Linked DNA regions of Homo sapiens. The protein of the gene in region 1 purifies or fractionates together with the protein of each later gene. This does not show direct contact. Each region holds a gene or a part of one and is shown in the gene's direction. Other genes may lie near its edges.

Region 1 (7,019 bases):
ATATTCAGTGATGTCATTAGGAATCTCAGCCACATTTTCTTCTAGATCTGCTTCATCCTTACGTAGCCTTTCCCAGTGTAGTGGCACAATGGCCACCAGCCAGGCCAGCCAGGCTTATGTCTTGTAAGCCTAGCGCCTCAGAGAAAAAGAACCCAGCCCCAAGGGCTACAGCACAAGTTCCAGGATTGACTATTTCAGCCTGTGCCCACCCCCACAACTGGTCACTATGTGTGTGTGGAGTGGAGGGATCATTATTCAATGCCAGTCAACCTACATGGGCTAAGAATGAGGGAGAGGTGGTTCCCTGACAAAAGGGGTACATGAGTATATCAAAGAGAGAGATATGAAGAGAATGAAGGGAGGGTAGGGGATGGATAAATGAAGAGAGTCATGTTAGTAGAAAAGGGAGTTGCTGGGCAGGCGAGAACACCTAATGTCCCCTGGGTCTTAGTAAATGTTGAATTGACTCAACAAAAGAGCAAAGGAAAAGCTAATGGGAGTGGAAGTATTAAAAGTTCATTGAAAGGAAAACTGGGCAGAGAGATCATCACAGTGATAACTTCCTTTCTACCTGGGGTAGTTCCATCATCTGCTTGGTAGTACCATAGGAGCACGAAACACGTTTCCGTGCTCTACCTTCTGTTTCAACCAACTGAAATTTCACTTTTAAAGAGATATCCTTTCATTGTGATATGTTTCTCCAGGATTCCCAGAAACGTCTGTAGCCACTAGTCACATGTAGCTATTTAAAGTTAAGTATAAATTAATTCAAATTAAATAAATTTAAGGACTCAACTTCTCAGTTATGCTAGCCACATTTCAAGTGCTCATTAGGCACATGTGGCTACCAGGTTGGACAGCTCAGATATGGAACATTTGTATCATCACAGAAAGTTCTATTGGACAGTACTGACTTAGAGCAGTAAGCTGTTATCAGCAATTTGTTGTTATTAGGTGTCTTTCTAGTGACCATTACTCAGAATTGAATGAGAAATGTTGATTATGACAGAAGAAATGAGAGAAGCTGCCTGGGACCATCTGTTGGCCCTATTTTCACTTCTTTAAAGCATTTCAGCTCCCTTAGGACTTTGCAGTGGATCTCCAGATGGGATAGTCTCTGCCATCACAGAGCTGGAATTCCTGATGATCCCTTTGAAACAAGCCCAGAGAGACATCCAGGGACTGTAGCCCAGGAGCCACCTGAGAGCAGTGGTGCTTGGGAGAGGGGGAGCTTGAGAGGCTGTTGGTGTCAGAGTCCTTGAGGAATGTATTGTCTAAGGCAGTCAGTGCTCATTGTTGTCAGGTGTCATAAATTTCTATCCCTTGTCATGTACTTGATCATCTTTTAATGTTATATAAGTCAGATAAAAACTGATTTTTTTCCTTTTTCATTTTATTCTGCAGACCTATCCCTCTTTGTTCTGTTGTTATGATAAATAGCCAACTTGATAAAGTTGAAGGAAGGAAATTTTTTGTTTCCTGTAATGTTCAGAGTGTTGATGAGAAGACCCTATACTCAGAGGCGACAAGTAAGAAGCTGGTCTTATCTCTTTCTTGGGGTTTAGTTGGGTTGGGTTGGGAGTTTTGGTTGGTTGGTTGGTTGGTTGATTTGGGTTTTGTGGGGGTCAGGGGGGTGTTTTGGTTTGGTTTGGTTTTTTGCCCTGGTATTATAACCCATACATGCCAAAAAATTCTTAATTCCCTGTCATACAAAGAACAAGTTAAAGATATTCTTATACATTGCTAGTAAAGGGCAAGTTGCCAACAGCTATCAAAATTACAGCCCAATGCATAAGCTCATGCCTGTAGTCCCCGCACTTTGGTAGGCTAAGGTGGGAGGATCACTTGAGCCCAGGAGTTCGAGACCAGCCTTGGCAACATGGCAAGACCCCATCTCTACAAAAAATACAAAAAATTAGCGGGGCATGGTAGTGTGCGCCTGTAGTCCCAGCTACTTGGGAGGCTGAGATGGGAGGCTCCCTTGAACCCAGGAGACAGAGGTTGCAGTGAGCTGAGATCGCACCTCTGCACTCCAGCCTGGGTGACAGAGCCAGACCCTGTCTCAAAAAAAAAAAAAAAATTTACAAAGTGATATGCCCTTTGACCCACCTCCAGGACTTTATCTCACAGGTATAATAACTGCAAAATTATAATGTGTTAGATTGCTATCGGGTTCCAGTGATTGTGTCACTCATGCAACATTATTTGCAATAGCAAGAAAAATGGCAAAACGTAGCAAACATAGCTATCCATCAATAGGAGACTGGTTAAAGAACTACAGCTCACCTATGAACTATATTGTATGTGTGTGCCATTAAAAAATGGTGAAATATTGTGATACCATAAATAAGAAAAATATGTCTATATTTATGTGTGTGTAGACTGTCTCAGGAAAGTCACACACATGACCTGTTACTTCCCTGGAGTACTGAGGTTCATCCATGTTGTTGGCTGTGTTCACTTGTTTGTACCACTGTGTAATACTCCATATGTGACTGTCCCACAATGAATGTCTCTCTTCCAGTGACAGGCCTCTGACTATTACAAATGGGGCTGCTATAAACATTCTTGTTCATGTCTCCTGGTGGTGTGCATGGGCAAGAGCTTGGCATATACTTAGGAACAGAATTTCTGGGTGGTAGAGTATTGTGAGTATTCAGCTTTACAGAGGAATGCAAAATTGTTTTCTAAGCCTGTACCAAATTAAACTCCCACCAGCAATATATGAGATTCTTTAGATTCCCATCTTCTCTAGCAATTAGTGAAGTCAGACTTCATGATTTTTGCCAGTCAAATGACTATAAAATGACTTCTCGGTGTGATCTTGATTTGCATTTCTCTGATTACCTGTGTGGTTGAGTGTCTCTTCATATGTTTATTGACCATATTTTTTCCCATTCTGTGAAATTTTTGTTTGTTCAGCTTTTTTTCCATTTGTTCTCATTTTCTTACTGATTTATAGATGTTCTTTATATATTTTCTATTAGAACAATTTTTTGTTGGATATATAAGTTGCACATACCTCCTTACAGTGTGTAAGTTGTCTTTTATTTGCTTTAAGGTATCTTCTTTATGAACAGAAATTTTTAATGTCAATTTAGTTGCATTTATTACATTTTTCCCTTTATGGCTAATTTTTTTGTATCTTGTTTAAGAAATTTATTTTTCCTCTTAAGTATGAAGCATTTGCAGGAATGATGGATTTAAGGAGCAGGTGGAAGATAATAACTTAAATCCACAGTCAATTTAAGAACTCCATTCCAGGCTGTGGTTTGTACTTCCTGTCTCACTAAACCTTTCAATATCATAAAGGTGCCAGATGGCTCACTTGTAATTTTAGTTCTTTTCATTTCTAATGGAAGTAGTGAGGAACCATGAAATGGCCAAGTGGTGAGGACCTGGTTACCCAGGGAGAAGTAATACAGTATTGTGATAGTCAAAAGCTGATTCTTAATTTGGCTGAAAAATGAGAGTGGACAGATAGACTGAAGCTACAAATGTGAATCAAATCCTTCTTTTGTATATGTCTTTCTATTTAGAGTAGTCCATCAAATTGAAGTCAGTTGACATATAATCATCTGCTGTTATTTTGTTTGTTTAGGCTTATTTATAAAGCTGAATCCTGCTAAAAGTCTGACATAAAGAGCTGCTGGTGAACTCCATCTCATTCTCGCCCCTCCAGAAGAAGCAGTTGTCCCCCAAATACTCTGCTCCCTCACTGCTGAATCCCTGTAGGGAGAAGCCTGCCAACAGTGACCTTCCGAAACAGCCTTCTGAATACAAAGAGGATTCAGTTTCCATCTTCTCAACTTTTTAACACAGAAATACTTCCTGCGAGCATATCGACAACTCTCGGGCCAGGCGCTGTGGCTCACACCTATAATCCCAGCACTTTAGGAGGCCGAGGCAGGCGGATTGCCTGAGCTCAGGAGTTCAAGATCAGTCTGGGCAACACGATGAAACTCCGTCTCTACTAAAATACAAAAAATTATCCAGGCATGGTGGCGTACGCCTGTAGTCCCAGCTACTCAGGAGGCTGAGGCAGGAGAATTGCTTGAACCCAGGAGGAAGAGGTTGCAGTGAGCCAAGATCATGCCACATCACTCCAACCTGGGCAACAGAACAAGAACCCATCTCAAACAAACAAACAAACAAAAAAAAAAAACTCTTGTCTCCTTAGGATATGTTACCTGCTCCACTGCAGACTAGAGAAATAAATGTGTATTGAACCTTTTACTGCAAACTTGAAAATGCTAGAAAACCAAGCATGAAGAATAAATACATGGTGGGAAACACACAGGCATGTGCATATGCATATACATTGTAAGTTAGTAAGTTAGAAAGCTAGCTTTGTTGTATCTGAACACATGAATCTTTTTTGGTCAGTGTAGGAAGCACAGCCAGATCCTATAGGAATGAATACCTCAAATCTGTTGTCTGAGATTCTAGAGATTAAACCACTGTGCCATTTTTAACCCAGGCTGTACTGTTGTTTCTTACCAACAGCATAGGTTTTCATCACTGGAAGGAGCCTGTGTTCATTTCCTAGGGCTGCTGTAGCAAAGTAGTACAAACTGGATTGTTTAAACCAACAAAAACTCATTGTCTCTCAGTTCTGGAGGCCAGAAGTTCAAAATCAAGGTGTTGACCAAGGCCATTCTCCTGAAAGTGCTAGGGAAGGAGCTGTCCACGCCTCCCTCCTGGCTTCTGGGAGCCTCAGGTGTTCCTTGGCTTCTAGATGCATCATTCCAGTCCTCCATCTTCACATGGCATTCCCTCTGTGTGTCTCCACAGTGTCTTCCCTCTGTGCAGATCTATCTCTGTGTCCAAGTCTCCTCTTTTTATAAGGAAACCAGTCATAATGGACCCACCTGAATGACCTCATTTTAACTTGATTACCTCTGTAAAAAATGTATTTCCAAATAAAGTGACCTTATGAGGTATTGGAGATTAGGACCACAACATACCTTTTTTGGGAGGACACAATTCAACCTGTAAAAGAGCCTCAACAAAACTAAAAAATGAACGGAGAGTTGAAGGGGGCCAGCCCCTCCACACCTGTGGGTGTTTCTCATCAGGTGGGATGAGAGACTGAGAAAAGAAATAAGGCACAGAGACAAAGTATAAAGAAAGAACCCTGGGCCCAGGGGACCGGTGCTCAGCATACAGAGGACCCGCACCGGCCCCAGTCTCAGCTCTCTCAGTATTTATTGATTACTGTTTTCACTATCTCGGCAAGGGGAATGCAGCAGGAGAACAGGGTGATAGTGGGGAGAAGGTCAGCAGGAAAATCTGTGAGCAAAGGAATCTGTGTTACAAATAAGTTCAAGGGAAGGTACTATGCCCAGATGTGTACGTAGGCCAGATTTATGCTTCTCTCCACCCAAACATCTCAGTGTAGCAAAGAGTAACAGCAGCATTGCCGCCAGCGTATCTTGGCTCCAGCCACAGGGTGGTTTTCTCCTATCTCAGAATGGAACGAACATAGGATCGGGTTTTACACCAAGACATGCTGTTCCCAGGGGCATGCAGGAGACAGAGGCCTTCCTCATCTCAACCACAAGAGGCCTTCCTCTTTTACTAATCCCCCTCAGCACAGACCCTTTGCGGGTGTCGGGCTGGGGGATGGTCAGGTCTTTCCCTTCCCGGGAGGCCATATCTCAGGCTGTCTCAGTGGGGGGAAACCTTGGACAATACCCAGGCTTTCTTGGGCAGAGGTCCCTGCGGCTTTCCACAGTGCATTTTGCCCCTGGTTAATTGAGAATGGAGAATGGCGATGACTTTTACCAAGCATACTGCCTGTAAACATACTGTTAATGAGGCACGTCCTGCACAGTCCTAGATCCCTTAAACCTTGATTCCATACAGCACATGTTTCTGTAAGCACAGGGTTGGGGCTAAAGTTACAGATTAACAGCATCTCAAGGCAAAGCAATTTTCTTAGAACAGATCAAAATGGAATTTCTCATGTCTTCCTTTCTACATAGACACAGTAACAGTCTGATCTCTCTTTTCCCTACAGAGACTAATGTTCTGGAAAATATATTCTGCTTCCTAGTGCAGGCAATAGATTATTTGGGCTTCCATTTCTTTCCTTTCTTTCCCCATATTAGAAATTTAAGCTGAACCATATGAAATCACTATTTCGAAGAACAGAATGGTCAAATATTGACAATTTCCTATGGTTCAACCTAATAACTTAGGGACAGCCTTGTGGTACCCTACCCAGTCATCCTTCCACAGCCAAAAGATCAGCTGGAGCCCTCCATTGCCAGAGCTGACTGACCTGGGATGGCCAAGCCAGAGGAAGACCCACATCCTGGAAGCCCTGTCTCTAGTGCCCAACTCCAGTTCTCAAGTTGCAAGGGCCCAGCAGACATGGGGGCACTGCAGGGGTGAAGCTGGCAGTTCCTTCTCCCAGAAATTCTGAGAGAGCCTGGGAAAGTGCCCCAGGAGATGGCTGGGCTCACAGCTCTACAAGTTACAGGTCTGGCAATGGCCACCCTCTATTCCCAGTCTTCCAACAAATCCTGAAACTTAAGAGAGTGGACTCTTACAATAATTATATTTCACATGTTAAAAAATATGACTCCGAAGGAATAAGCCAGCGCTGCTCATTTAGCTAGTTTCACTTAACTAGTTGGGAGGAAGTTTAGACAATGAAGGTACTGTACTCTCATCGTTAGATTTCTCTGGCAGGCTTGCAGAACTGCTATGGCACACCAGACCTCCAGCCAAGTGAAAGAACCTAACTGAAAGAGTGCCAAATGACCAGGTTTTCTTCATGTTAAGTATGCCTGCCTCCCTTCGTATCCACTTTTTTCCCTTTACAGTTTCATTTCTTACACTGGTTTGCTCACATCCAGGTTAGATGCTGCACAAGATCAACTAAGGAAAAAGCTCAGTCACTGTTAACATAGGGTTCCCCATAGCCAGTGAGGGAAAAATGGCTTCCCTGCTTTGCAGCAGACTATTCCTAGCCTTCACCATGCCCTGGCACTCTTGCTTTCCTCAGGTTG
Region 2 (7,845 bases), on another chromosome or scaffold:
GAATCGCTTGAACCGGGGAGGTGGAGGTTGCAGTGAGCCGAGATCGCGCCATTGCACTCCAGCCTGGGTGACAGAGCGAGACTCCATCTCGAAAAAACATCAGAAAACATGGAACTCTGTTGGCGTGGCTTAAACATGAGTGTGGTCAGTGTGGCAAAATCACTTGAATTGTACATTACAAATATGATTGAAGTTGTGGTCGAGCAATGTGGCTCACACCTGTAATCTCAGCACTTTGGGAGGCTAAGAAGGGAGGATTGCTTGAGCCCAGGAGTTAAAGATCAGGCTAGGCAACATAGCAAGATTCTCTTCTTTATTTTCTACAAAAAAAAAAAAAAAAGAAAGAAATCTGGGTGCTGTGGTGTGTGCCTGTAGTCCTAGCTACCTGGGCGGCTGAGGCAGGAGGATTGCTTGAGCGCAGGAGATCTAGGCTGCAGGGAGCTATGACTGTGCCACTGCACTCCACCCTAGATGACAGAGTGAGACCCAGGCTCCCCCCTCCCCCACAAAAAAGAAAGAAAAAATTTGCAAGTTTATATGTACAATTTCAACTACGTGTATAAAATTCTCTATAAGTGTGCATACTTAAAGGAGCCTCCACTGAAAGGCCGACAGAGTCTCTGTCTGTCATGATCTTGTCCTATTAGCAGTTTGTTTATTAGATGACTCAGATATCAGAAGGTCTGAGACACACGACAGGTAAATATGACAGTCCTAAGGGGAGAGGGCAGGGACAGGTGGCAAGTCTGGGACCAGGTGTGGGGCATGGACAAGCCAGTGGTCCGGGAGTGGGGTGTAGAGAAGACTGTGGTCAAGGTTATGAGGAGGCATGGGAGAGGGCCAGGAAATAACCAGGGACTTCCCTTCCTGCAAGGAGGTTCATGAACCAGCCCTGCACCCCACTTGTGGAACACAACATCGCCCCACAGTGAGGAGAGAGACCGAGGAGACCAAGGCTGATCCTGATTCAGACATCTTTCCACCAGGTCACCCCTCATCGATGATACATGCTCAGTCCGGGGGTATCCCCCGCAAGGAAACACTGGGGCTGAGGAGCCCAGAGAGGTCGCCTGACCTGGACTGGGGCTGGGGAGGTCAGGGAAGTCTCCCTGGAGAAGAGACAGGGTGCCAAATGCCAAAAGACCAGGAAGGGCACCAGGCGAAGATGAGGAGGGAACAGCATGAGCGGAGGCCAAGAGGCCAAGGTGGGAGCCCAGAGAGGGGTTAGGAGTGTGCAGGCAGAAGGGGCCACCTGGAGGAGTGGGAGCAAGGCCTTGAATGCAAAGTTCAATGACTTGTACTTTAGCTTCTGGGCAGTGAGGAACCATACAAAGTTCCACACAGAAGGTCAGGGTCAAGTAAGCGTTTGCCCAAGCTCTTTTCAGAGGTCACATGGAAGCTAGAATGGAATGGGGTAGGAGACAAAAGGAATGCAGGCATGATATCTGGAGGAACTGTGGACCAGAGCCTTTGCAGATATGTCTTCTCTTCAACCAAGGAGACGGACAGCTCCATGTCTTTATTCTACCAACACAGCATCCCCTCAGTGGCTCAGCAAGTGTGGGACACGCACTCACAGCAAGAAAAGCTGCATTAAGGTCTTCAGATTCTCTTTAACAGCAGGTTCTACTGGAGGCAGGTCCTTGGCCTTCAGGACAGCTGGGAGGGCCTCCTGGAAGAAGTCCTCCCGCACTGCAGCCTCCACGTGTTGGGCACCATGCTGCCACCGTGGGTCCGCTTTCAAAGACTCAGCAGCCAGCACTGATGGGCTAGGGGAAGACAGAGTCAGCGGAGGGGCTGGGCATAGCCAAGTGTAAGGCAGCATGACCTGCTTTAGGGGTTCTCTGATTGGATTTTCCCTCCTCCACCATGTGTGTGATGGGCTAGGATGTCCCCCTCCCTGGGGACACTTGGAAGCCTCTTAATATAGCTGCGGTGAGGGGTTTGTAAAGCCCCATTTTATAGATGAGGACACTGAGGCTCAGAAGGAGAAGTGACTCACACAGGGTCCCACAGCCAGAAAAGACAACATGAGCTGGGATGTCAGCTCCCTTCCCGGATACACCACTGCCCAGCGGGCCACCGCACCCCATGGCACTCTCATGCCTCAGCTCCGTGATTGCCACCAAGCCAGCCACAGAGATACGGGGCCCAGTAAGGAAGGCCTGGTCCCGCAGGAACTTGTCCTCGAGCAGCTGCAAGCATCCGTCCAGCTCAGCCAAAGTGGCCGCCAACATCTCGGGTGGCACTGACTCGCCCAGGAACACAGGGATTATTATCTGGTGGGCCGACAGGCAGAGAGAGGGGTCAGGGTCTGCCCAAAGCCCATCCTGGTTCCCACCATCATCCTATCATCACCAGTCCTTGGGATTTCTGCTCACCTCTGCTCACTTCTTTCCACTCATAGCCACCAGTAGCTCTCATCTCCTACTCAAACAGGGACAGCCTCCCCCTTCTCCCTGGGTCCTCACACAAGGCAACCAGTGGGATCCTTCTGTAATCTCAATCTGCCCGTACCCTCTCTTGCATAAAGCCTTCCATGGCTCCCCACTGCCCTCATGAGAAAGGCCTCAACACAAAGCCAGCCTTCTCCAGTGCGGTAGCCATCCCCTCCCCACTTTTCACCTCACCTCCTACTACCCCCCACTTATCAAACGGGAATGTGTGTATGAATCCTCCCTGGAATCTGGTTACAGTTTATGCTCCCAATCAGTAAGGTCAGAGTGGGGCCTGAGCCTCTGCATTTCCAACAAGCTCCCTGGTGATGCTGATACTCCCAGTCCATTGACCACACTTTGGATAGGAAGAGTCTACACTTGCTCTACTCAACTTCTCTCCATTCTGTCCTCAAACACACCACGCTTCCTTCCCCACCAGCTGGAGGGGGCTCTGCTCCCAGGCCCCAGAGGTCAAGGCAGACACAGTTAAGGTGTGGAAACCTCCTTATTGCCCGATGGATCCTCCAGAGAGGCGGTCCCTTACTTTCAGCAGGGCGCGTGTCTACCTGTTTCATGCTGTCTCACACACAGGGTGCCACCCCTGTGCTGGGCACTGGGTAAGTGCTCTGTACATATTAATTAGGAGTACTCATTTCAAAAATATGTGTGCCTTTGATAAATAAAAACAGTATGTGCATGTTGTGTTGGTGTGTGCTTCCTTGATTATTACTGAAGTTAAACATGTTTTCATCCATGTATTGACCATTTCTCTTTGTCCTTCAATGAAACCTCTGCTGATTTCCTTCGCTCATTTTTTTCCTGTGTCTTCGTCTGATGAGTTTCTCTTCTTTTTGTTTGTTCGTTTGTTTGTTTTGAGACAGTCTCGCTCAGTGGCCCGGCTGGAGTGCAGTGGTATGATCTCAGCTCACTGAAACCTCTGCCTCCAAGGTTCAAGTGATTCTCCTGTCTCAGCCTCCCGAGTGTGCCACCGCACCCAGCTAATTTTTGTATTTTTAGTAGAGACGGGGCTTCACCGTGTTGCCCAGGCTGGTCTCAAACTCCTGACCTCAACTGATCCGCCCATCTCTGCCTCCCAAAGTACAGGGATTACAGGCGTGAACCACCACACCCTACCTGTCTGATGGGTTTCTAAGAACATCTTAAAGGACATTACTTCCTTCTGACGTATCTTTTACCGAGATCCTTCCCAGTTTTTTGCTTAAGGTTAATCCATTTTTTCCTCCACAAAGTAACCTTGTATATGTATTGGTTTTTTCTTTGTTGAGTTCTCCCACTGTTCTGAGGCTTAGAAAGTCCTTTCATACCCAGACATCAGAGAAACAGATCCCGTGAGAGTAACTGGGATTGCAGGTGTGGGCCAGCATGCCCTGTTATCACTCCCTTTCTCTGAGTCAGCTTTTCTCTCTCAGTCTCGTCTACTCCTCGAACTCAGGAAATGTCACTACAGGTGGCCCCAGCTCCCGTTTACCTCCCCATAGGGAGCTCCTCTCTCCAGTTCCAGTTTCAAAACTCCCAAGGAAGCATTCTGGTTCACTCGCTTGGGCCACTGGCCAGAGGGATGGGATACTCTGAAAGATTCAGCTAGAGTCCCGGGCCCAGCCCTGGACCATCACTGTGCCCCCTGGTGAGATGCCAGGGCTGGGATTCAGGGAGAAGAAAGGAGGTTCCCGGACAGTCATTCCTGCCTCCCGCGGCTGCGGGCTCCCTGCCCCCATCCTGTGCACGAAGTGGGAGCTCCCGCTGTCTGGCAGCTCCCGCTGTCTGGCAGCAGCTGCTCTGCAGGGGACAGTCTGGACGGCAGAAAGTTCATCCTTAACCCCAGCCTTCCAGTCAAGGTTCCCACCAGTTTGGGACACCTGCAAGTGTCACATCCCACTGGGTGAAACTCTAAGATCCCTTTTAGGGGATCCCATTCGCTCCCTCCCTTCCGCCACCATGCAGCGCCGAGAAACAGAGCTCTGAACGAACCCTCAGATGTCCGTGCGCTGGGGCCTTTCCAGGACGGCGGCGCCCAGTCGTTTCTGGGTCAGGGCGACGCCTGGAACTGGGCAGGGTCCCTGGCACCGGGATCCCGAAAAGCAGACCTGCTTCTCCCTGTCCAGCCGGTTCCCCTTCCCCTTGCAGTCGGCCCCCTGCATCCGCGTCCTCCCTGCCAGTCGAGGGTCCCCAGCTCCAACTCCACCCTCCCAGCTGTGCGTTCATAGCGACCGCCCTCCCTGTAGGGACGCACGGATCTGGTGGTGGAGTCTTGGCCGGCAGGACTGGACAGGAACCGAAGGGGCGAGGCGGGTCCGGGGGTGGTGCGCTCCAATTGGGTGCTGTCCCCAGGGGGTGGGGCCTGATCCCCTATTTCCCGGCGCGCCGGGATCCTGCCACAGCTGCTGCCCACACCGCGCTCAGCGCCTTCACTGCCATCCCCGCTGTCCTTGCCGCCCCCGCCATGGGCCTAGAGCTGTTTCTTGACCTGGTGTCCCAGCCCAGCCGCGCCGTCTACATCTTCGCCAAGAAGAATGGCATCCCCTTAGAGCTGCGCACCGTGGATTTGGTCAAAGGTGGGCCCAGCCCGTTTCCCCGCGTGTCCACAAACCCAGTGCACCCCCAGGCCCCCGCCCTGCTCTGCCCTGAGCGTCTCGCCGCCCGCACAGCCCCCTCACCTCCTCCTGCAGCGTCTGCCACCAGAGAATGCTGTGGACTGAGTGGCCTTGGAGGGATCACAGCCTCTCTGAACCTTAGCTTGCCTTCTGAAAAGGAGGATAATGTTACCTTCTGCTCTGTAGGGATGGAAAGAAAATACTGAATGGAGTTGACAGAGTTCTTGCGTGGAATGCACGCATATAAATTCACAAAGCCCAGAAGACCTTGGGAAGAAGGACATGCTGTTGTGAGAATTAAGAGATGGGAAGAGATGAGCCACCCCAGTTTGCCTCCCCTCCCCTGGCCCACCAGAGTCCGGCTAGAAAACTTCTCTTTATCCACCTGCTGCACCTGGCCCCACCCACCAAAGCCCCCCAGCTGCCCCGGAATGTGGCAGGGCAGGGAGGCCCAGCCAGGGAGTGAGGCTGATCCAGGCCTCTAGTCCCAGACCTTGCTGTTTCTCAGGGCTGTGGGGCTCCGCTTGGGGAGGAGGAGGGAGGGTGTAGAGGTGCAGCGTTTTTATTCTGAAGACCTTTTCTGACTTCTTCCTCTTCAGGGCAGCACAAGAGCAAGGAGTTCTTGCAGATCAACAGCCTGGGGAAACTGCCGACGCTCAAGGATGGTGATTTCATCTTGACCGAAAGGTGCCCTCCTTCCCTCACCCCTCACCGCATCCGGAGCCCATGTGACCTTGGCTCTCCCCACTGGCCCCGGGCCCCAGTGGCCCTCCCATACCCCATGGGGCAGCGAGGGAGGGGAAAGGCGAGGGATCTGGCCGGGCGCGGTGGCTCACGCCTGTCATCCCGGCACTTCGGGAGGCCAAGGCGGGCGGATCACGAGGTCAGGAGACCGAGACCATCCTGGCTAACACCGTGAAACACCGTCTCTACTAAAAATGGAAAAAAAATTAACCGGGCGTGGTGGCGGGCGTCTGTAGTCCCAGCTACTCTGGAGGCTGAGGCAGGAGAATGGTGTGAACCCAGGAAGCGGAGCTTGCAGTGTGCTGAGATCGCGCCACTGCACTCCAGCCTGGGCGACAGAGCTAGACTCCGTCTCAAAAAGGCCGGGCGCGGTGGTTTACGCCTGTAATCCCAGCACTTTGGGAGGCCGAGGTGGGCGGATCACGAGGTCAGGAGATCGAGACCATCCTGGGTAACACGGTGAAACCCTGTCTCTACTAAAAATACAAAACATTAGCAGGGCGTGGTGGCGGCCGCCTGTAGTCCCAGCTACTGGGGAGGCTGAGGCAGGAGAATGGCGTGAACCCAGGAGGCGGAGCTTGCAATGAGCAGAGATAGCACCACTGCACTCCAGCCTGGGTGACAGAGGGAGCCCACTCCAGCCTGGGCGACAGAGGGAGACTCCGTCTCAAAAAAAAAGGAAAGAAAGAAAGGAGAGGTATCTGGGGAGAAGGTACAGCTTGGGGTGTGACCGGGATGAGCAGGGGCTGACAGAACATGTCCCCCCACCTCTCATCTTCCAGCCTTTTCTGAGCCGCAGGGCCTCTCCACTCCCAGACTGAAGGGTATTAGAAGAGAAGACAAGGGAACATTTTTCCACTGTTGCGCATTTGTTCAACAAATGCTAGCTGAAAAGAGCCTCTAGTGACTTGTTGCAGACTACCCAATCTACCCAGGCCGGGCCTAGAGGCCAATGCCATGGCCCAAGGGCACAGCTCATGGTGAGGTCCAGCTGCTGGGCAGGAAAAGGACAAGAGGTCAGGTGGCTGCAGAAGTGATGGCTGGGGGCCTGTCAGACGGGGGCCAAAGACATTCCTCCCCTCGTGATCCCTGACCCAAGCGCGTGGACATGCAAGGGACTCCACGGAGCATCCACTGTGTGCCAGCCCCATGCAGGGTTCCAGGGGTCCAGGGAGCCTATTCTGAGCTGCACCGCCTCGGACAAGTCACTTGACCATTCTGACCTTGAGTTTTCTCTTGTGCTAAAAGGCTAACAGGAGTGTCTACCTCACAGGGCGGCTGCTGGCATATCACAGAGATGAGGTTCTCAAAATGCAAAGCAGAAGGTCCAGCCAAGAGTCGGTGCCCAAGGCAACAAAGACAGGAGGAGACTCGTAGGAGGAGGGGGTGGTGTTGGGGAGCTGGAGATGGAGGGCGAGGCTGGAGGGCAGTCCTTCAAATGCAGAGAAGCCCCCGGGCCCCACTGGCAGATGGGAGCAGTTAGGGGTAAATGCCTGGTGCCAGTGTCCTTATAGCCACTGCCCATTTGTTCCCAGCTCGGCCATCCTGATTTACCTGAGCTGTAAGTACCAGACGCCGGACCACTGGTATCCATCTGACCTGCAGGCTCGTGCCCGTGTTCATGAGTACCTGGGCTGGCATGCCGACTGCATCCGTGGCACCTTTGGTATACCCCTGTGGGTCCAGGTGAGGAGAGCCATCTGGAGAGTGATTGGCCATCAGGGAGTAGTTGGCAGTAGGCCGGGGCCATAGACTGACCCACTCTCTGCCCCCATCAGGTGTTGGGGCCACTCATTGGGGTCCAGGTGCCCGAGGAGAAGGTGGAACGCAACAGGACTGCCATGGACCAGGCCCTGCAATGGCTGGAGGACAAGTTCCTGGGGGACAGGCCCTTCCTCGCTGGCCAGCAGGTGACACTGGCTGATCTCATGGCCCTGGAGGAGCTGATGCAGGTGTGAGCTCAGCCTGTGGGCAGTGTCCCTCTTCGTGTCACACCCATGAGGCAGACAGAAACACTGAGGCCTGGAGAAAGCCAGAACTTTGCCCAGAAT

The links. The genes of interacting proteins can lie anywhere in the genome.
Region 2: the proteins of THEM4 (region 1) and GSTT2B purify together in Homo sapiens (affinity purification with mass spectrometry, with the first as the bait; 2 studies listed by BioGRID). This does not show direct contact.

Annotation. Positions count from the first base shown.
Region 1 is NC_000001.11:151,871,511-151,878,529, reverse strand, and holds part of THEM4 (acyl-coenzyme A thioesterase THEM4), read left to right. Parts: intron 1-1,404; coding exon 1,405-1,529; intron 1,530-3,601; coding exon 3,602-3,642; 3' UTR 3,643-7,019. UniProt on the Homo sapiens protein: Has acyl-CoA thioesterase activity towards medium and long-chain (C14 to C18) fatty acyl-CoA substrates, and probably plays a role in mitochondrial fatty acid metabolism. Plays a role in the apoptotic process, possibly via its regulation of AKT1 activity.
Region 2 is NC_000022.11:23,958,186-23,966,030, reverse strand, and holds the start of GSTT2B (glutathione S-transferase theta-2B), read left to right. Parts: upstream 1-4,835; 5' UTR 4,836-4,899; coding exon 4,900-5,011; intron 5,012-5,649; coding exon 5,650-5,737; intron 5,738-7,329; coding exon 7,330-7,480; intron 7,481-7,572; coding exon 7,573-7,746; intron 7,747-7,845. UniProt on the Homo sapiens protein: Conjugation of reduced glutathione to a wide number of exogenous and endogenous hydrophobic electrophiles. Has a sulfatase activity.